4 linked regions of the Homo sapiens genome follow. The protein of the gene in region 3 interacts with the protein of the main gene of each other region in a pairwise test. Each region holds a gene or a part of one and is shown on either strand. Other genes may lie near its edges. The genes, in order: HSD17B13, MFF, CLDN19 and CLRN1.

Region 1 (2,633 bases), on a different chromosome or scaffold from region 3:
TATACTGAAACAAACAGCTGTTTGTGATAAGTTGGTAAGCTAAAAGAGCAAGTTACAGAACATAATGTATGGTATGAAACTACTGATACGACCCATGCAATAAGAATATAATGTATTTGTCATGAACATGCATCAGTAAAAGACTGGAAGATTGTGCATTGACAGTGTGACCTCTGGGAAATGGGATTGCTGGGGGTAAGCTTCTATTTTTTACTTTCCATGTTTCTCTTTTGAATTTTTGTAACCATACTTTAAAAATAATACATTTTACTCATAAATTTCTTGATTATAAGGCAAGAAATTAAAAGAATGTTATGAAAAAAATTATTGCCGGTGACTAAGAAAAAAAATTAGAAACAATAGCACTGTGCTTAATCTCACACATAGAAAGGGGTCAGTAAGTTCCAGTTGATAAACCAGCACTCCTGCTGTCAAAGAAACCAGAGTTGAGAAAACCCCTGGATTCATTTAATAACTGCCAGATGTAGCTGTTACCATCCACATCCTTGGTTCTTGAAGGACACTCATAGAGACAGAGTTTAGAAGTCAAACGTTTTATTTTATAACTACAAGAGGTTATTTTTTTAAAGCACAATGACATATTTATTTTTAGTGAATTGTTTTTGTGACTTTTAAAAAAATCATTTGTTTTTAATAAAAACAAGAGGATAGTCCATGCAAAAGCATTCTATAATACATGTGAAAAACACACAAAACAAGATTAGTCTTGATGTAGTGGGAGTCGGATTATTTTTTCTATTAAAAAAAAAAAGGCTGGGCACGGTGGCTCACACCCGTAATCCCAGCACTTTGGGAGGCCGAGGCAGGTGGATCACGAGGTCAGGAGATCGAGACCATCTTGGCTAACATGGTGAAACCCCGTCTCTACAAAAAATACAAAAAATTAGCCGGGTGTGGTGGCGGGCGCCTGTAGTCCCAGCTACTCAGGAGGCTGAGGCAGGAGAATGGCGTGAACCCGGGAGGTGGAGCTTGCAGTGAGCTGAGATCATACCACTGCACTCCAGCCTGGGCGAAAGAGTGAGACTCCATCTCAAAAAAACAAAAAACAAAACAAAACAAAACAAAAACCAAAAAACCTTTCTTTCTTCCTTTTCTTCTCTTGGGTCCATTGTTTCTTATGTAATAGCCAGTACAGTTCCTTTTCCTGTGTTAGCTTTAATTTTTGAGCCTAAAATTGTCTAAACATCTCTGGGACCAAGGATATATGAAAGCATAAATTACAAAGAAAAAGGTTATCATGGGGCTAGAACTTAAAATTCTGAGATTTAAAATAGAGTCGGTCACCTTTCATAATGTATCTTATAAGACTATAAAAAGGGAGGAAATATAGAGGGTCCACTTTTGGTGGACTTCAGAGTTATACAGAAGACAGAATCAAGTAATAAAGTCCAGAATAGAGTTGCACCGTTTTGGGCTAATGAAAAAGGAAGAGGCTAGGGAAATCTTTCAAATGCTGAATCTTAAAATATGTCCAGGTTGAGATAAAGCTGCCTGCTGAAACTTGATCTCTTAGCTGTGCACTCATTCTGTGTTCTTGTTGATATTCTGTGGCATGGCTACAGATTGGAATGCTACTTGAACAGTCTTAAACCTTCCCTGTGTAAATAAGTTCTCTTTGTATTTACTTTTAGGGAGGTAGCTTTTGTCCACCTTTAAATGGAAAAATAAAATATCTTAAAGAAAACCTTTTAAGTATGTTTATGTAAGCACAGAAGTTTTTAAGAGGCATGAAAGGAAAAACAGACCTATGAAAAACTACGTAAATATTCTTGAGAAACAGGAAGACAGGTAATTAATCTTGTTCGTTTGACTGCTGCTAGTGCCAAACCAATGTTTTTAATATTATCAGGACTGAAAAAATGTGAAATAAAGCTTTGCAGCATTGATTCGAAACTATTCATATCATTATCATGCATACATCTCTGGCTGGAGCTTATTTATTCATTTCATTTTGATTTTGTGGCCAACCACTGCTTCAAATTGAATATTCTGCATACGATTTAAAATCGCTGAGGCGCGTTCAGGAAGAAACCTGTACAAAAAAGAAAAAAAAATTGAAAAATTTTCCATTTAAAATCTTTGACAACAGAGTTCTGTTTTTGGTCATTTAGAATACGCTGAGAGTTATCTGGTTTGCGTTTAACTTTCCTCCGTTCTTTTCTTCTCTTGCAACCACCTCTCTTTTACGTGTGCATCTTTCTTTTTCTTTTTTTTTTTTGACATAACTTCATAGTGGACTTCATTAGGAAAAGTGTAAAAACATTCAAATTCATAAAATTGAAATGAGACAGTAAAATTATGCCTTGTGGCTATAGTAATTGCTATAGTAATCACAAGTAAGGTAAAGTCTAAATTATTGCCTGAACACAGAGGTTGCAGTGAGCCGAGATCACGCCATTGCACTCCAGCCTGGGCGACAAGAATGAAACTCCATCTCAATAAATAAATAAATAAATTATTGCCTAAACAAACACTATTTTGTCAGGCTTCTGCTGCAAGCCCAAGGCAGAAAACATTGCAGTTATTAGAAGTCAGCCCAATTATGAATCTGCATTTGAAGCTGGAAGAAAGGGGAAAAAGTGTGTTCTGATTACAGCATCAAGACATTCTAG
Region 2 (7,680 bases), on a different chromosome or scaffold from region 3:
TACAGGCATATGCCACCACACCCAGCTAATTTTTGTATTTTTTGTTGAGACAGGGTCTTATTATGTTGTTCAGGCTGATCTCAAACTCCTAGGCTCAAGAAATCCTCTGGCCTTCGTCTCCTAAAGTGCTGGGACTACAGGTGTGAGCCACCGTGCCCGGCCTGTTTAAATTTTCATTCACTTACGATGTTAAAATTTTGAACTAGTAATGCATGTACTCGGTACAAAGTACGCAAGCTATACAGAGAAAAGGAAGTGTCCCACTTTCAATCCTATCCTTAACCACCCAGGTTCCCACAGGCAACCTTTATAATCAATTTTTGTGCATCATTCCAGATGAGATGCTCTTCTAATACTTGCGTGTATCTCAAGCATAGCAAAAGCTCATATTCAGAACTAACACTGAAAAAAGCTACCTCAAAAAGATTATAGCCTTTGGCCATTATAAATTGAAGTTTTATAATAATAAACGAGAACCAAGTGGCTAGAACCTCAGTATCTCCTTGAAATGTGCTTTCTCTGCATTCCATTCATTGCATTTCAGTCTTACGAACTTTCTAGTAGTACATCTCATAGGTCTCACTACTATATTCCATTCTATAGCAACATCTTTTCTTACGAGAATATCTGAGTTTGTAAAAAACTAGTGACTTAGAAAATAAAGGTGGATGCTGAAATGCCAACTTCTGGAAAAAGCCAAGTTCTCCTGTAGCTGAACTACTTACATTTAAAAAGTAACTGGATTTCTACTAAGATTTAACACTGTATTATCCCAATTATTGGGTTTTCTGCTTAAAACCAATCAAAATCTGATTTTTTTTCTCCCTCGTTAGACTGTGGCATTTCTGATAATATCTTTTGGCAATAAATAAACGTCTCATTTGGTGTTGATATGTTAATTCCAGAAGTTTTGTACCTTAGAATCCAGTAGGCAACCAGTACGTGATTCTGTTACATAACAAACGAGGCAAAATCTCTCTTAGAATCACAGATGATTTCATATTTCTACTTTCTAAGCCCAGTGGTTCCCAAACACCAGTAACTAACTTGCCAACTTCATGGGTTTTTTTTTTCCCATATTCACAGAGTACATTAACTTTTTGCTACAGTTAATTTTTTTAACTCGACTTTTTAAAATCAAAAAAGTATTGTAAAAGAAAATTTTGTATCACTACCTTAAACCATGGCTGTACATATATAAATACAGATTGCAAAAACATCCTATTACAAAAAAATCCTCATCCACGTACCGCCTAGAGTCAAGTCACATGCCACTAGCGGAAAGTGTACCAATTTTGGGACACAATGATTCCAGCCCAACTTTCTCATTTTCTGTATTAGAACACTGGAACCCAGAAAGCCTCGGAAGTCACCGAAACAACTTGAGTCAAACTGACTGTGGTTGCAAATGTTTATGTACTTTTCAAAAACAAACATACAAACAAACAAAAACAAACCAAAAAAAACCCTCCAGTTGTTTATTACCTACTGCGTGGACCTAGTTCACACAGATGGGCCACTCTGCACACCCTGTTTCAGTTCTTTTTCAAAGAAACTATATTTAAAAAGTCACTGCAAACTTTTAAAACTATATATTAATGAACTTTAAAATAAGGTTATGAACCCACAGAAAAGTTTCAATACCAGAAGAGAGGAGAGCGAAGACTAAACTTTGCAATTCTGAAAGGAGGCAGCTCTATCAGACAGGAAGGGAGAGAACACAATTTCCTTTTGGAAAAAATGGCAAAACCAATATACAAGCCTTTGAAACCAAAAGATAGAAGGTCCCCCAAGCAATTTAATTGCATGGGAAAAGACTACTAAGTATAACTAAATCGTCCTAATTTTCCTAAGGGTTTTTCTTTTGGGCTCTCATTAGCCAACGGAATTGAGGCAGAAAAAATGTTTTTCACGCAGGGAGACAAAACATTTGTGATCATCTTAAGTCTCTCGGTGGATGAGAGGCCTGAATACAAATGGTTCTATATTTGGGCAGAAGGGCCAGAAACCTTTTTTTTTTTTTTCCCCTTTAATGTTCTCCAATGAAAACATGTCACTTTTGAAAGGGTGCTCTTCCCTCGAGAATGCCCTTTGCTTCTAACTTTGTGGGAGGTAGACAGGGGTGTTCTTTTACGATAGTAATAGTAGCACACGTCCTGCAGAGGAAGGTCAGAAGCTCGGCGGAACAGGAACCGCAGCTTTCCTCCGGCTTCCCAGCTCCTGGAAGGAAACCCGAGAGCAACTGCCTGCAGCCACATCTGCGAGCAGGGATGCTCACAGACGGACAGGGTGGCCCGCAGCCACCCGCGATGCCACAACCTGGGCTTCCAACAAGGCCCTTCTTTTCCAAAATGTACTTGCCACAAAACAACACAAAAACCTCCTTTTAAACAAGGCAGGTTTAAGGTCAGCCTGTAAGGTGTCAGGGCCTTGGCAGGGAAGGATGAGTGAAGACCTGCAAAGCCCGGCGTTCACGCTCACGGGACTCCCGCTGCTTCCCAAACCCCTATTTTCCAGTCGGAAAAGTCCGGGTTAATACACAAAAGGAGACGCCGAACCACACAAGGTGAAGAGGTTCGCCCAAAAACACCTGCAGAAGACGCTCCTCTCCCTCGCTCTCCTCGGGGACTCAAGGTCCCGGGGAGGAGGAAAGACCAGGGTTGAAGGCAAGAGGCCCGGGGACGGGACTCGGGTCAGGGAGACACTACCGGGGGGGCCGGGGCCACCGCGGGTCCCTGTTGGCCGGAGGGTCTCGGCGGCGGCGATAGGCCTGGCAGCCAGCTCGGGCGGCAGGTCGCGGGTCGGGAAGACGTCAACACTCACCCCTGGGCCCACAGGAGGGTCCCGGCGAGGACCCCCGCCCTCTGGCTCCCGGGGCGCTCGAGTGGGCGCTCTCAGAGGTGGTTGGCTGAGAGCACGGAGGCGCCCAGGGACAGCACCGGCGGAGCGGCCCGCAGAGGGCCAGGGCAGAAGCGCGAAAGGCGCGGGCTGGCCCCTTCTGGGAGCCGTAGCGGAAGAGTGTTCGTGGTCATGTGACGCGGAAAAGGGCGGACGCGTGGCCCACGCACTGGAACGGCTCCACGGTAAGCGATGCGCAGACATCTTTGTTGTGGGCGAAACGAGGTGACCGCAGGTGACTCCTCTTGCGGTTAAGTTTAATTCACACTTCGGCTTTATTAGATTTTGTAATCTTTAAGAACTTGGTGTTTGCAAGGTAAACCTTTGGTAGCCAATTAAAACAACTTTTTCAGGACCATCTGGCATGAAAATTTCTATGCTGTGAGGCTTAGGAATTCTCATATGTAAATCAGCTCCGCCAGTGATTCCATGAGTTCCAATTTGATACTTCTTAAGCCCTCGGTTGATCAGACCTTGTCTTCCATGAGAATTCCGGGAGAGGGGAAGTTAAGTTTCACAGTAGTTGGCGGCATCGTTTAGCTTTGGGAGAGCACTCTCTGCTTCTGAACACCCAACCACAGACTCTTCCCCCCAGGAAGCCCTTGCTTAGAGCGGGGGAAAAATGGTACAGTGCTTGTCAGTATGGGAATGTACTGAGGCCAAATAATGTGATATTTTATATGCCTTGGTTTTCACAAACACCTAAAGGTGTACACATGACTTATGTACTCCCCTACGATCTAATTGATATTCTAGAGATGTTACCATTCTTCAAAATGATTTGGGAAGCCCTCTGAATTGCGTTCTTGGGCTTCTTAACACTGGTGTAGGGAAAGTGAAAATATTTCCTCTCCCCTCTTGGGGTCTTGGCTGGGCCTAAGAATTAAACTGATGAGGAAAAGAGTCAAACTCTAAAATATTTGAAGAGATTTATTCTGAGCCAAATGTGAGTGACCATGGCCCGTGACAGAGCCCTCAGGAGGTCCTGAGAACATGTGTCCAAGGTGGTTGGGGCGCAGCTTGGTTTTATGTATTTTAGGGAGGCATGAGACATCAATCAAATAAATTTAAGAACTACATTGGTTTGGTTCAGAAAGGTGGGACAACTCAAAGCAGGGGCTTCCAAGGCTGTAGGTAAATTTAAACATTTTCTGGTTGACAGTTGAAGACCTGGGACCCATAGAAAGGAAATGTTGAGGTTAAAATAAAAGATTGTGGAGACCAAGGTTCTTTTGAAGTCTTATAGTGGCTGCCCTTAGAGACAATGGATGACAAATGTTTCCTATTCAGATCTTTAAAAGGTGCTAGATTCTTACGTAATCTCTTTAGGATTGGGAGGACCTGGAAGAAAATGATCTAGCTATGTTAATAGAAATTCTATGTAGATGCAGATTTTCCCCCAACAAAGGACAGCTTTGCAGAGCCGTTTCAAGATATGTCAAAAACTAAAAAAAATGTTTTGCGGTAAAATATTTTGATTTTGTTTCTTGTCTCGTTATGCCAGTGTCAGATTGGAAAGTAAGTCACAATATATAGGGTTAAATAAAACCCATCTGATGAGAATTTATGGATTGTAGGGCATGAATCCCTAGGCCCCTTAGATAGGAATTTGAGCAAGATTAAAAAAAAAATCAGAGCTTAGTCTCCACTGACGTAAAATAGAGACATAAAACATAACAGGAGGAAAGCATACAAATTTTATTTAGTAATTTTTACATTTACATTGGAGCCTTCCCTAGAAAAATGGAGACCCAAATTAACAGTTGGACCCTAAGTGCTTTTGAGTCTCCATTTTTCTAGGGAAGGCTAAAAAGAGTAGTAAATTGTGAAAATGTGAGAAAACAAACAGATTTGGGTTAGTGCAGTTAATGCAGAAGTGACTAAGAAGATAAAGGTTGTTGTAACAAAGTGGAAATGAAAATCGGTAAGTTTGTGCAGATACAGCTCAGCTTTGACTCCATGTCTCTGGTGTTGAGAACATCTCCCTTCCTCCTTATACAGGGAGGGCACCTTTCATACGGAAGTTTTATCTCCTGCTTTCAGGAAGGAAAAAGGAAAGCCACAGTGCTCTTTTTGCATTTTTTTTTTAAGTGCCTTTGACTCGAAAATAATCTTTATGCCAAAGTGCCATATTTTGGGTTGGCATATCCTACTATTGACAGAGCAGAAGCACTGCCATTTTAAAGTGCCCCTTGATCAAAAACCACCTAAATCCAACCCAGAGGGCATCAGCCTAATGGCTGTCAGCATGACCACAAACCACAAATGACACCTCCGACCAGAAACATTCTAACTCTAAGATAAACCCCTCTCCCACCAGACACATGCCAGCCCCAAGATAACCTTCCCTCTGACCGAGCGATGTCAGCCCCAAGATAACCTTCCCTCTGACCGGAGCGATGTCAGCCCCAAGATAACCCCTCCCCTCCAACCAGAGACATTCCAACCCTGTAATAAACTTCTCCTCCAAGCAGAAATATTCCAAGCCTGTGATAAGCTCTCTCACCCTAAACCCTTAAATACTCTTAGTCTGTAAGAGAGAGTGCTCCTGACCAAAATTGGCCAGAAGCCCCTCTCAGGTTTATTCTCTAAAATAAACCTATCCTTGATTGTTGAGCCACTTTTTGTGTTTCTCTCTTCTTTCTTTAACTCTTAACAACTACCCTACAGAGACAAATAAGCCTTTAAGAATAGATTGATTTTTAGGAATAATAAGTCATTCCAAGTCAATCTTTTGTGGGAAGATAGAGATCAAGTTGGGAGATCATGCATTAGGTTGGTTCTGAGGACTAAGCTCTGATTTTTTTATCTTGCTCAAATTCCTATCTAAGGGGTTTGGGGAGTCATGTTCTCCAAACCATAAATGCACATCAGATGGGTTTTATTTAACCGTGTATATCATGACTTACTTTCCAATCTGACTCTGGCATAATAAGGAAGAAAATAAAAATATTTTACCCAAAAATATCTTTCCTTGCCCTACCTTGAAATTGTCCTGCAAAGTCTCTTATGGGAAAAATCCACATTCTGTAGAGAATCTGCTTTCCCCTTTGTTTTCCTTCCTTCTGTGTCCGGAATTGGTGGGTTCTTGGTCTCGCCGACTTCAAGAATGAAGCTGCGAATACTTGCGGTGAGTCTTACAGTTCTTAAAGATGGTGTGTCATGTGTCCGGAGTTTGTTTCTTCAGATGTTCAGATGTGTCCGGAGTTTCTTCCTTCTGGTGGGCTCATGGTCTTGCTGGCTTCAGGAGTGGAGCTGCAGACCTTTGCGGTGACTGTTACAGCTCTTAAAGGCAGCACATCTGGAGTTGTTCATTCCTCCTGTCCAGAGTTATTTGTCCCTCCTGGTGGGTTTGTGGTCTTGCTGGCTTCAGGAGTGAAGCTGCAGACCTTCGCGGTGAGTGTTACAGCTCATAAAGGCAGCGTGGACCCAAAGAGTGAGCAGCAGCAAGATTTATTGCAAAGAGCAAAAGAACAAAGCTTCTACAACATGAAAGGGGACCCCAGCAGGTTGCTGCTGCTGGCCCAGTCAGCCTGCTTTTATTCCTTTATCTGGCCCCCACCCACATCCTGCTGATTGGTCCATTTTACAGAGAGCTGATTGGTCCATTTTACAGAAAGCTGATTGGTCCATTTTGACAGGGTGCTGATTGGTGCATTTACAATCCCTGAGCTAGACACAGAGTGCTGATTGGTGCATTTACAATCCTCCAGCTAGACATAAAAGTTCTCCAAGTCCCCACCAGATTACTAGACACAGAGCACTGATTGTTGCGTTTACAAACATTTAGCTAGACAGAGAGTGCTGATTGATGCATTTACAATCCTCTAGCTAGACATAAAAGTTCTCCAAGTCCCCACTAGATTAGCTAGACACAGAGCACTGATTGGTATGTTTACAAACCTTTAGCTAGAGACAGAGTGCTGATTGATGCATCTACAATCGTCTAGCTAGACATAAAAGTTCTCCAAGTCCCCACTGGATTAGCTAGACACAGAGCACTGATTGGTGCGTTTACAAACCTTTAGCTACACACAGAGCACTGATTGGTGTGTTTACAAACCTTGAGCTAGACACAGAGTGCTGATTGGTGCATTTACAATCCTCTAGCTAGACGTAAAAGTTCTCCAAGTCCCCACCAGATTAGCTAGATACAGAGTGCTGATTGGTGCATCCACAAACCCCGACCTAGACACAGAGTGCTGATTGGTGCATATACAATCTTCCAGCTAGACATAAAAGTTCTCCAAGACCCCACCTGACTCTAGAGTCCAGTTGGCTTTGCCTAGTGGATCCTGTGCTGGGGCTGTGGGCAGAGCTGCCCTCCAGTCCCGTGCTGCGCACATGCACACCTCAGCTCTTGTGCGGTCGATGGGACCAGGCGCCGTGGAGCAGGGGGCGGTGCCCATCAGGGAGGCTCAGGCTGTGAGGGAGCCCATGGTGGGGGTGGCTCGGGCATGGTGAGCTGCAGGTCCTGAGCCCTGCCCCGTGGGGAGGTGGCTGAGGCCCGGTGAGAATCCAAGCGTGGCGCAGGTGGGCTGGTAGTGCTGGGGGACCCGGCGCACCCTCTGCAGCTGCTGGCCTGAGTGCTAAGCCCCTCACTGCCTGGGGCCAGCGGTGCTGGCCGGCCACTTTGAGCGTGGGGCCTGCCAAGCCCGCACCCACACGGAACGCGTGCTGGCCTGCGAGCACTGCACACAGCCCTGGTTCCTGCCTGCGCCTCTCCCCCCACACCTCCCTGCAAGCTGAGAGAGCCGGCTCTGGCCTCGACCAGCCCAAAGA
Region 3 (4,688 bases):
TCCGCAAGGCTGTGCTGAGTTTCCAGGTTCCAAATCCTGTTAGGTAGGGCTCTTCTGGCTGTGTGGGACAGGATTCAAACTCAACGTTTTTTCAGCCAAAAGGGGAATTGATTGGGAAGATGTGGGCGTGTCACAGAACAGCCTGGTATTGGGAAAGGCAGGAGTGAGTGGGGCTTCCTCTCCCCACCTCTTTTCTTTCTTTCTTTTTTGAGATGGAGTCTTGCTCTGTTGCCCAGGCTGGAGTGCAGTGGCACAATCTTGGCTCACTGCAGCTTTCGCCTCCTGAGTTCAAGCAATTCTCCTGCCTCAGCCTCCCGAGTAGCTGGGATTACAGGTGCCCACCACCACAGCCGGCTAATTTTTGTATTTTTTAAAAATAGAGACAGGGTTTCACCATGTTGGCCAGGCTGGTCTCGAACTCCTGACCTTGTGACCCACCCACCTCAGCCTCCCAAAGTGTTGGGATTACAGGCATGAGCCGCCACGCCCGGCTACCCACCTCTTTTCTTTTCTTTTTTTTTTTTTTTTTTGTGATGGAGTCTTGCTCTGTCATCCAGGATGGTGTGCAGTGGCACGATCTTGGCTGACTGCAACCTCCACCTCCCGAGTTCAAGCGATTCTCCTGCCTCAGCCTCCCGAGTAGCTGGGATTACAGGTGCCCACCACCACAGCCAGCTAATTTTTGTATTTTTAATAGACACGGGGTTTTACCATATTGGCCAGGCTAGTCTCGAACTCCTGACTTCAGGTATCTACCCACCTCGGCCTCCCAAAGTGCTGGGATTACAAGCGTGAGCCACCGTGCCTGACCTCCACCTCTTCCCTTGTGGGTTCTTTTCTCCCTCTGCAGACCTCACAGAGTCACCTGGGCTTGAGGCCTCATAGAGGAGCCCTCAGTGCTGACCACACACTACAGTCCCCTGAGGAGCTACATGACTTCTGATGCCAGGTCCACCCAGACCAATGAAATAAGAGTGTCTGGGGTTGGAGCCTAGGCATTGTGCCCCCAGGTGATTCGAATGTGCATGCAGGGTTGGGAACCATTGCACTATAGCTTCAGGCACCCAGAGGAGAAACTCCTGCAGTTCTCATTCATTAGAGGGGCAGGACTCTGGGGAACCTATTTAGGGTCAGGTGGCCACATCCTCTGACCAGAGGCTGGACAAGTCCCTGTTGTGCCCCGGTGGATGTGCAGCACCGGCCAGGCCAGGCGCCGAGGGGTCAGTCCCCCAGCAGCTCCCTGCCATTTGTGTCATTCCTCCCCTCCCTGCCCTTGACTGCAGTGTACATGGCAGTCATCTCATCTGACTTGGTTTCCGTCACTTTCCCTCTCAGAGTCAAGCTCGAAGGAGAAGCTGAGCTGCGTTCTTGAGATCTGGGGACGTGGTGGGAGATGTGGTCACAAGGCAGGTGGTGGAGGAGGCCAGAATGGAGCTGGCCAAGGAAGGTGCGTGGCAGGGAAGGGGAGGTTCTGTGATGGATGCTTTCCCCAGAAGCCTGATACGCAGTGGCCAGGGAGACTGAGTCCCGGGAGAGGGTTTGGGGTGGGAGAGGTCTGAGCATGAGGGGCAGGGCACACTCTGGTTCAGGGAGATGTAGGACAAAGGACTCTGGCCTTGGGACTGATCTGGGCTGGTTTCCTTACATTCCTCTCAGGCCCTTCCCCCTGTATGCTAAGGGGGGATGGTACCTGGACTTCAAGACCAAAAGCCCTTCTCTGACCGCACTGCTGAGTGCAGCAGGCAGCTCCACCCACAGTCTCTGGGCAGCCCCAGGCTGTCCCCTCCCCACTCTGATTCTAGGACAAAGACCTTGGACCTCAGCTGGATGCTGGGGATCAGGAGAGGAGGAATGGTAGGTGTGGAAACAAGGGGCAGGATTCGGGGTGAGCAGAGCTGGGGGCTGCAGACCTTGCTCAGGACAGTCCTAATGCCTGCAAGCTCCTAACGCCCTCCCCACATTCCCTTTTCTACATGGGGAGCTCCTACACTGTGTCCCCTCACCTATCGCTGATCCCCAGCATCCAGCTGGAGGGCCTTCCAGGAACTGTCCCTTCCCTTAGGAGGTCTCTGGAGCACAGTAACAGGGGCAGGGTTTACTACCTTGGGGCCTCTTTCCACACCAGGGGCTCCCTGACCCTGGGGACTGCTCCTAGAGCTGGGCCAAGCCTCAGGGGCAGCCTCCAGGAGTGAGTGGGATCTCCTATCAAGGAGGACTTTGTGCCAAGGCCAAGGCCAGGCTTGGGAGGGGGGTCCCTAGACAGAGGGTAGGACCTCTGAATTATTTCTTGCTTAGCCCTGGATGTGCTATGTAACCCACCCTGGACCTCTGTCTCCTCATCTTTCTGCCCAAGAGCCCCAGGGGTCAGCACTGACCACTCTGACACAGGCCCCGTCCAAGCCACGCTGAGGACAGACCGAATGATACCATGATTGGGGCTGGATGTTCACTTCTCTTTCCAAAAAAATATGAAACACACAGTCTAGGTATGGCAGGGGACAGAGCCTGGCTGGGGACTGGACATTACACACCCAGGGGGCCCTTGGCGGAGGCGGGCAATTTAACAACTGGTCTGAAAGTCAAAAGAGAGAGAGCTGGTTAGTGGAGTGAGCTGTGGGGTCGGGGGCAGGGGCTGTGCATTCAGGCCCGGACATGGGTACTGGCCAGCGTGGCCAGACCTTGGCCCTCACAGCAGCCCTGCCTGGGGCCCATTCCCGGGGGCAGGGGCGCCATGGTCCGACCTCACCATCTGTGTAGGTGGCCCCCAGCCCTGGGCGCACTGGAAGAACCTGAGACCTAAACTCAGACCCTCCCTGTCCTTGTGTGAACGTTCAGCATCCCGGCACTGCCCTTGTGGGGTTGCTGTGAGGAGCCCATGGGACTGGGGAGGGTGAAGGTTTCTGCTCACCCCAAGGACCTGGGTACTAAGGTACGTCTTGGCCACTGCTCTATCTCTAGGGCCCAGCACGTAGCAGACACCCAAGCAGCTCTTCAGTGAGTAAACAGCCGGGCTGGTGCCTGAGGGCCTGTCTCCAGGGATGCATGCTGGTGCCCACCAGGCTGTGCAGACAAGACCGTGCCTGGACCTGCATCTGTGTGTATGCCTGGGGGCTGGGTCCTGCCTCTGGTGTCTCTCTGAGGATCTGGGTCTCAGATTGCAGGGTGGGTGCTTGTGTTGAGGACAAGCTGCTCAGAGCACCTATGCCCATCCTATGCCCCAGTGGCCCTGCCCAGGGTGCTGCGAGGCTGGCTGGATGCTGGGCAAGGGGGCCACTGGGTGGGGGGCTGGCCAGGGCAGGCGGAGCTCAGACGTACTCTCGGGCAGCAGCAGAGGGTCCAGGCCGATAGGGCTGTGGGCTGCTGTTGGGTCTCTCTGGCTCCGGGCATGTGCAGCAGAGGAAGGAGCCGCCCAGCACGGCCAGGCCAGCTGAGGCCCAGCCCACGAACAGGGCTGGGCCAAATTCATACCTGCAAGGGGTAGGGAGAGTGGCATCAGGTGTGGCTGCCGTCTCAGGTTGTTCCCAGTCCCTGCCCTGGCAGAGGAAGGGCAGAGTGTGTGGAGCTGGAGGCTGGAGCCTCACAACCTCTTCCATATCTCCAGATAAATTGAGGTGAATGCTCTTCCTTTCTCCCTCCCCCCCAGCCCAGAATATCAACACCACACAGGGTGACCCGGCCTGGGGTAGGCGTGAAGGCTAGAGGCTGGGCCTCCAGCTCCTGCTCTGAGCAACCTTGGGCTCATTTCCTGATCTGGCCAGTGGAGGGGGCATGGGAGGGCCTGAGAGGTCTGCACGGGAGGAGTGGGGCAATCCCTGCCATGTTTTTTCCCAGTCACATTCTGGCCCACAGAACTCCCAGCCAAGACTGCTCCCGCTGCCCTCTGGAGAAGGCCAGACCCTTCCACCTGGCACTCTGGGCTCTCCACACCCAGACCCTGCTGGCCAGGCCAGCCCTGCTCCTGGTTCTCACTGCCTTGGTGCCTTTGCACAAGGCACCCCCAGCTGGGGCACCAAGCCCCCCAGCCCACCACTCCTGTGCCTCCCCTGTTCCTTCTCTGCCTTCAGAGCCCAGTTCAGATGCCACCTCTTCGTGGGGTCTTTCCTTGACATCCTCTGTGTTCACCCCGCCCCTTGCGCCGACTCCACTACCATGCTTTCTCCAGGAGGCCTCAGCCCCTTGCTTGTCCGGCTCCCTGGGAAGCCCCTTGAGGGCAGACAGAGCCATCAGTGTCCCCAGGACCCAGCACAGGGCCTGGCAGCCCAAGTGGCATTGGGGACTGTTGAAGGGATCGGGGGCCGAGTCCTATCCTGACATGCCTGAGCTGGACCTTGCTTGGCAGACTTTGTGGCTGCAGCCACCACCCAGGGAACAAACCTTGTACCTGAGATCTCCTCCCTCCCCTTGCCTCTCAACACCTCTGCCTCCTCCAGGCATCCCTCCCGATTGCAAAAGCCCAGACATCTTTTCTCATCCTCTCTCCACCCCAAGGCCCAAAGCCCATTGGGATGTCTAGGGTTAAGACTGTCCCATTCTCTGCTCCTGGCTAGGCTGAGAAGTGAGGGAGGAGCCAAGGTGGGCCCAGGCCCTTTGCAGAGCATCCCCTTCAGTTCCCATGCCCACAGTCTTACAAGTCCTGGTTATCTCCTGAATATCAGCCTGCTTTCCACTGCTCCCTCCCTGTTGCCCCA
Region 4 (7,152 bases), on a different chromosome or scaffold from region 3:
TGAAATATAAATTCCTATTAATTGATAATAACATGACAACACAAAGAAAACTTGCCATGAGACCAGCCTGGCCCACATGGTGAAACCCTGTCTTTACTAAAAATACAAAAAAAAAATTAGCTGGGCATGGTGGTGCACGCCTGTAGTCCCAGCTACTTGGGAGGCTGAGGCAGGAGAATCGCTTGAACCCAGGAGGGGTAGTTGCAGTGAGCCGAAAAAACTGGCCACGAAGTGATTGTTACCTTGATAAGTTACCTTTTCCATTCCTCTTACACTGGTAAGATTCTGTGAATTCAAATGTTTGCTTAATAACTTTCTAAAGGCACAATAAGAAAGAAGACATTCTGGGAAATGAATTGTGCACTAATTGTAAGTTGAGCTCTGGAAGAAACAGAAAAGAGTCATCCACCTGAGCTCTCTGGAGGTCCCTGCTTTTTGCTCCAAGGAAGCCACTACTGAGAAAGTAAGGTTAGATCTTTTATTCATTTATATGAACAGGGCTTATACATTTCTATCAGGAAGAATATCAGAGGATTCTCATCCAAGCAAACGTTGATGAAACATCATTGACAGGGTAATGACATTCTGAATGGAAAAAACGTGAACCACAAAGCTGCGTTGCAATGGGAGTGTAAACTTTGAGGGTGCAATGTGTCCCAAAGGCATGTTGATTAGAAAGTTTTAACACTGAGAGGGGTGTTTATTTAAATGAATATTATCCTCTTTGGGGAGTCCATTGGATCTATTTATTTTGGTTTTCCCAACTCTGTCTCATGCTGCATTGAAAAAGATACTTTTATGCTTAGGAAAAAAAAAAAAGCTCTACTGTAAGTATTCTTAGCTGGGCCTCACCAAAATGAATGAGATTTTTAACATGTATAGTATATACAGTACACTTAATATGTATAGTCTATTGTATATTGATGGAGCTGTCACTGCAGAATGAACAAGTAAATGGAAGATTTTCTTCACTAGGCTAGGGGGAGAATGTCAGGGGTATCTGGGAGCTAATGAAATTCTGTGAGATAAGTGAGGGTACTGTTTAAACCCCACCAGTTCTGCAAGTCCTCACAGAAAGCAAAAGGAGGGGCACCCAATTAGAACAACTTCATCCTTAGACAGGACAAGCATAGGACACAACCACAAAAATCATTCGCTAAACCCCAGAAGAATGTGGCTGTGTAAGGATTAAATGAGACAAAGCATATAAAGTGCTTAGTATGTAGTAAGTGTTCAGAAAACATCTTATTATTGTTTTGAAACATGTCCTATGGCATGAGTAAAGTTTATCTCCATTTCACTGTAGAAAATGTAAAGGCTCCAGAAAATTCACCAGTACCTTCTCCGCTTTTGTCTAAATTCATCTGTGAGAAGCTTTACTCACGCTTTGGCTGCCGGTGACTCACGGTTAAATCATCTCTCTCAACTTTTTTCCTTTTCGGTTTTTTAATACAGTTGCATATCACATGACATTCTGCTTTGTTTTCTTCCTTCCCCTTCCCCAGGAAAACTAAGCAACTCTAACAGCCCCATTACCTTAATGAATAAAAGCCATTCAGTGAAAAGAACTGGTATCCACTTCATCAATTAAAAAGCTAACAACCAATTCTTGGAAATTTTCTGGAGCCCTATGAAAATTCATATCACTTAGTAACCTATGTGAGCTGAAGGTTGGTGTCCAATGACTGCTAAGAAGATATAAGGAATGTTGCAGAAATATAAATAGACCAGCACTGAAATTTAATTAGGCACTGCATATGTTAATAATAAATTCAATTAATTTAGCCTTCTACCTATACTAGAAAGAAAAAAAAAACCTGGGCAAAATAATAATTCATTTTAAATGCTTCAGTTGGTAACCTCCTTTCCTGAAGAGTGATTTATGCAGTAATTTACTGACTGTGTCTTCATAAGGTTGTTCCAAACCAGCCCTTCTGAAATAATAATAACTTCTGAATGTGTGTTGTAAGAGATATAACAAATGACTTCCTATTAATTTTCATTTAATGAGTTGCCTATTCACATGGTAATTTTTAAAAATTCTCTTCTTAAGATAAACAGGTTATAAATACTGTGGATTACACTTCCATTTCACAAAAATCACAACAAGAAAATCTCTCTCATATTCTCTACATGATTTGCAGGTCAATCAGTTTAAAATGTTCTATACTAAATAGGCATCCATTTCTTTCCCAGTTAGCACAGCAGATCATTTTAAATTTCTATAGCCAAATGATTCCAAATTAGTTAAAAATGAAAACTGAATATTTAGCAGCAGGAAAGGTCTTAGCAGGAATAATGGGAGGGAGTGGGGAGCAGGAAACAAAATCATGAGAAAGGTGGCAACCTGGTTAAATACGGAGCCCATGACCTTGGTTCTTTTTATAAAGAACAAAAAGCATAAAGATCATTCTTTACAGCTTTCCTATTTCCCCAAGTTTACTTTTTTAAAAAGACTCCATAATTTTTTACATAAATATTAATACTTAAGCATCTTAATTGCCAATATTTCCAAAAACCTTAATTATGTAACAATGAATTAACTCTATATTATAATAAAAAGCAAGTATAAAATAATAAAAACTAGGAAGAAGAAATTGCTCAGAGTCATAGGTTTTTCATATGGTTCACACCGATTTAAAAAGTCCTGCAGTAAACACGGCAAAATTCTCAAATATAATTCCTCGCAACACTGGGAAGAGTCTGCCTAAAGCATTAAATAACTCAAATGCAATTGCTACTTACATGAGAACCGAAAGGGCCTTGCTCCCAACCCACACTGCCTCACACCCTCTCCGTGGAAAAGCCCGTACTGCATTTCACCCATAAACTTGTCCAGCTCCTGCCCTGAGGCATTGACGAGCAGAGCTCCCGTTTTGCAGAGGACAGTGGCTTTGATCCACAACGGTGTCCCCAAGGCTGTCACAACTCCGAGGGCACATGCAAAACTGAACACTCCGGCCATGCAAAAAATGATTTTCTTCTGTTGGCTTGGCATGATGAGAAACGGCTTCTGTGAGGGCGAGGTTCAAAAACAAGACCTTTGTGAGCAATGGGAAGGGACTGCCTCTTTGACTGCATTTATTACGGAAGCTGAACGGACAGCTCCCAGCTGAAAAGGCAACTTCACCATCGACGGTTCTCGCCAGGTTAAATGTCAGTAGATGAAGGCCTCATCATCACTCATACTTGGCTTTTCTCCTTTTCTGCTGCTTCTTCTCCCTAATTGGAAATCTTTGGACTAAGAATCTGTAAAACAAGTCTTTCAAACTGCCTTCAAGTATCTCCTCTGTGTCACTTGGTAACAAAGGTCGAAGATAACAGATGGAGTCCTCAGTGTAACTTGATAAATGTTTCCCTTCCTCAGCCTTTTGTCTGATTGGGTGAGTTGAAACTTTCAGAAACAGGCTTGAATCTGATGGTACATTTTCAGCAACTTGAGAAGTTCACTTATCGATGTTTTTATTTTTGTTTTTTGTTTGTTATTGTTTTTGGTGGTGGGGGAAGGAGCTTTAGCAGAGGTAGGGAGAACATATGTACCTGTATTGATAGTTGATGTCAAAAATTTTTAATTACAGCAGGATAAAAATATTAAACAGAATTTGGTCCTACACGAATATTAAGTGCTCTGGATCAACCATGGGTCCTTGTCCTTCCAACTTAATTTCTCCCAGATCCATGGTTTATACCTAATGTATCAATAGAGAATTTGATTCAAATTTTTCTTGGCATACAGAAATATGAAAATGCAGGAGCAGATATCTAGATTTCTAAATGCTTTCCTTTAACAGGCTTAGCTGCTTTAGGATAATAGCAAGGGAATGTGTTTCTGGGTCCAAGGAATACCAGGATCTGTAAAGATAAGGGCATATTGATGGAAAGAGGGATGGTGGTCAGATAGGTGACTCTATGGATTCATCATAAAAATGCACAGGTCTCAGCAAAGGTAATCTGTTTGGGAGACTAGAGACAGTTATGAGCAAAGATTAAGCAGCAGGTAGGTCTGGTTAAACGGTCAAGACCTGGAAACTAAAGTTCAGAATTCAGTAACAGCTTTTTAACTTTGCATTTCCAATGAGATTCCTCCTTCTACAGACACAGGACTGTGTGTGTGTGTGTGTGTGTGTGTGTGTGTGTGTGTGTGTGTGTGAAGTGTCTAGTGAATGTTTATTATATGCCATGTTATTGTCCTGAGCTCTGACCTACAAAGTTAATGTTTAGTAAGAACTTATGTCTGGCAACTTGTGAAGTATTCTACCTAAATTATCATATGTAATTCTCATAATTAGCATATAAAGTAATGAAGAAGAGGAAGAAGAAGAGGAGGGAGGAGGAGAAGAAGGAGGAGGAGGAGGAGAAAGGAAGAAGGAAGAAGAATAAGAAAGAAGAAAGAAGAAGAAAAAGCAATTATTCGTATCTTATATATAAGGGAATTGAGGCTCAGAGAGTTTAAGCAACTTGCTGAAGAGAGTAGTGGAGCTGGGATTCAAATCCAGGTCTTCTACTTCTGAGGTTGATGTTCTATTCCAAGCAAAGCCCCTGACCTTGAAAAGATGGCAAACATTTCAGTTTGGGTTGGGTTCGTCTAGGAGTAACAGGGGCAGACTAGCCCATTATTAGTTACACATATTGAGTGTTTGAAGAACACAGACATCAGTAAATAGAACTTTTTCAGTTGGCCAAAAGCACATGTGTATGCTAGCTTCTATTCTTTTGATCCACCTTTAAGCATGACAGCTTAGAGGAAATTAATAAATGAAGACTTATTTCACACCATTTTCAGCATAAATGAGTCTCTACATTATGCACACTTCGAAGGGAACTTTGAGGTATAGACTCGGAGTACTGGTAAACTTCTCTCACAGCTCGCCTCTCCTAGGAGTCGCAACAGCCAGTCTCGTTAAGGACAGACAACTAAGTATAGAACTCATTCTAGAATGCCAATGTACCTTCGGGGAGAAGAGGGGCAATATAAAACATGGCCACAGAAGAACTGGGCATATAGAAGATTCCAAAGAGGCACTTAAAATAAAGTTTACAATATTAGTAAGTCTTTTTTATTTTGTATAACTTAACACAGAATAAGCAACTCATCCCAGTTTATTTGGCCTTCCAATGAATTCACCACTGGATTTAGAATAATTGCTAGAACACAGAATAAGCAACTCATCTCAGTTTATTTGGCCCTCCAATGAATTCACCACTGGATTTAGAATAATCGCTATCATGGTCCACTAGCAAAACAAGGGGGTGCCAGTGCCCCTGATAAGTGGTTATTTGGGCATATATGTGCCACAGTCACCCTAGAAAACTTAGTTTAAGATGTCTAAGCAGAGCTGAGCTTACTAAATCAACATATTCTGTAATTGGAAGAGACAGAACATTTCCAAAGCCTGGGAGAAGAAATCACCTACAACTTAATCAATACTATTAATAACCTCTACTAAAGGATATGGCAAGAGAAGGATAGTTAGCATAGGACAGCGGTTTAATTAACCCAAACTCAGCCAAGTATATCTAAAGCTGTCCAAGGAGGAAAGCCTTGATTATGGGTGTAGAGAGCAATTAGATCACATCAGTTGCATCAGTTTGCATCAGTCTGTAGCGACATGTTCACTCGTCTGTAGAGACATGGGAAAAATAAATACAACATACTGAGTTACTCTTATATCCTGAAGTTAGGCCCTTCCTAATTTTTATTGTTGAAATTTTCTTTCTTTAATGAGATAATGGTAGTTGAATTTTTAATGATTTTATTTGACAAATTTAGAAACTGGCAAACCTATGTCTACTCCTGATTTAAAACAAAACCAAATCAAACCCACTGCTCTATGACATAAAAGATCCCTGAGTGGAAAGGGTGAGACTCACCCTTTGAGGCCTAAAACCTCACCCTTTGCTTTGACACGGTGGTTCTCAGTTTTGCTGCTCATTAGAATCACTTGAGAAGATTTTAAAAGTACTGATGTCTGTGTCCTCATCCCTGAGATTCAGATTTATTTGATTTTAGAGTATGGCCTTAGCGTCGAATCACCCCAGGTGATTGCATTGTGCAGCCAAGGTTGGAAGCCACTGCCCTTATCTCCTTTTCACATGGCTATCTACTGATTACAAACTAGGCTTTGCAGGCATCTCAGTGCTGGAATGCACACAGACATGAGCATCTGGGTCGCTAGAGAGGAATATGCTCATAGCAAATTAATAAATAGGCACTACCATTTACAGCTCAAACTTTCCTACATTTTTTCAGCACTAGGTTTCAGCATATCCACAACAAAAGACCAGGCCCCGATTCATAGATTTACCCCCAAATCACCATATGAATATCAATGGTGCTGTATCCTGTTCATGTGAGGCAGCCCCCCTCACCTCTTCTCCATGCAGCTTCCTTTCAAACTTCAGCATCAGCCACCCACAGGCTGCGTAGTAGTGTGTGTGATCCACCCTCTGAGAATGATATAATGGAACCTGGCAGTCATTATGCCTGACAGCCTTCTTTTGAAATTTCATCTTAAATGTCTTGAATGACAGTGATGACACCATTTTCCTTGCAGTCTCTCTGAGAATTTGAGTCATTAATGTCAGCAAGTTTTCACCAAGTATCCTGCTGAAATCTTTACTTCTCTCAATCTTAATAGGAATACATTCGGTGACATAAGAAAATGGAACTAGGCCTCCCCCTCCTCTGACCCCTTTCAGGTGCTGGATAATGATATAATTCTTCAGAGTGACTAGAGATTCTGTAGAGAAAGGAGCACAATTGCAGACTCTGTTTTCACTTCCAGTGTAGCATTTGTGCCTCTTCTCACACTAACTTGGCTGCATCAGTTTTTCCTTATAACCATTTGAAAACAAAAGAAAAAAAGCAGCCCCATTACAAAGGGATGCAAATTCTCACCTGGTTTGTTCGCCAAGTATAAGAGACAGTATAGCATGGCATGGGAAGATCCTGTCCAGGGTCTATTTCCAGCTGTATGGCTAAATTAAGAATTCCTTCTCTGGCATTAATTTTACATATTTATGAAAAGAGTGGTCTGGGCTGCATAGGTGATTCTCAAATCATTTTTAAGAAGAAAAACCATTGCCTCAACACAACTTGTGTGAAATAAGACAAAAATCGAGCTGCTATACTGGGAGGGTGGGTGATCAAGG

Evidence for each region.
Region 1: the proteins of CLDN19 (region 3) and HSD17B13 interact in binary tests that used the Homo sapiens proteins (3 or more experiments, as listed by UniProt).
Region 2: the proteins of CLDN19 (region 3) and MFF interact in binary tests that used the Homo sapiens proteins (3 or more experiments, as listed by UniProt).
Region 4: the proteins of CLDN19 (region 3) and CLRN1 interact in binary tests that used the Homo sapiens proteins (3 or more experiments, as listed by UniProt).

The regions. Positions count from the first base shown.
Region 1 is NC_000004.12:87,303,256-87,305,888, forward strand, and holds the end of HSD17B13 (17-beta-hydroxysteroid dehydrogenase 13 isoform A precursor), read right to left. Parts: intron 2,054-2,633; coding exon 1,963-2,053; 3' UTR 539-1,962; downstream 1-538. UniProt on the Homo sapiens protein: Plays a pivotal role in hepatic lipid metabolism. In vitro, it catalyzes the oxidation of a variety of lipid substrates, including 17beta-estradiol, retinol, retinal, and leukotriene B4.
Region 2 is NC_000002.12:227,320,571-227,328,250, reverse strand, and holds the start of MFF (mitochondrial fission factor), read right to left. Parts: upstream 3,001-7,680; 5' UTR 2,824-3,000; exon of another isoform or gene 2,709-2,823; intron 740-2,708; exon of another isoform or gene 726-739; intron 1-725. UniProt on the Homo sapiens protein: Plays a role in mitochondrial and peroxisomal fission. Promotes the recruitment and association of the fission mediator dynamin-related protein 1 (DNM1L) to the mitochondrial surface.
Region 3 is NC_000001.11:42,732,563-42,737,250, forward strand, and holds the end of CLDN19 (claudin-19), read right to left. Parts: intron 3,469-4,688; coding exon 3,316-3,468; coding exon of another isoform or gene 3,200-3,315; exon of another isoform or gene 2,573-3,199; coding exon 2,524-2,572; 3' UTR 531-2,523; downstream 1-530. UniProt on the Homo sapiens protein: Forms paracellular channels: coassembles with CLDN16 into tight junction strands with cation-selective channels through the strands, conveying epithelial permeability in a process known as paracellular tight junction permeability.
Region 4 is NC_000003.12:150,969,711-150,976,862, forward strand, and holds the start of CLRN1 (clarin-1), read right to left. Parts: upstream 3,018-7,152; 5' UTR 2,999-3,017; coding exon 2,746-2,998; intron 1-2,745. UniProt on the Homo sapiens protein: May have a role in the excitatory ribbon synapse junctions between hair cells and cochlear ganglion cells and presumably also in analogous synapses within the retina.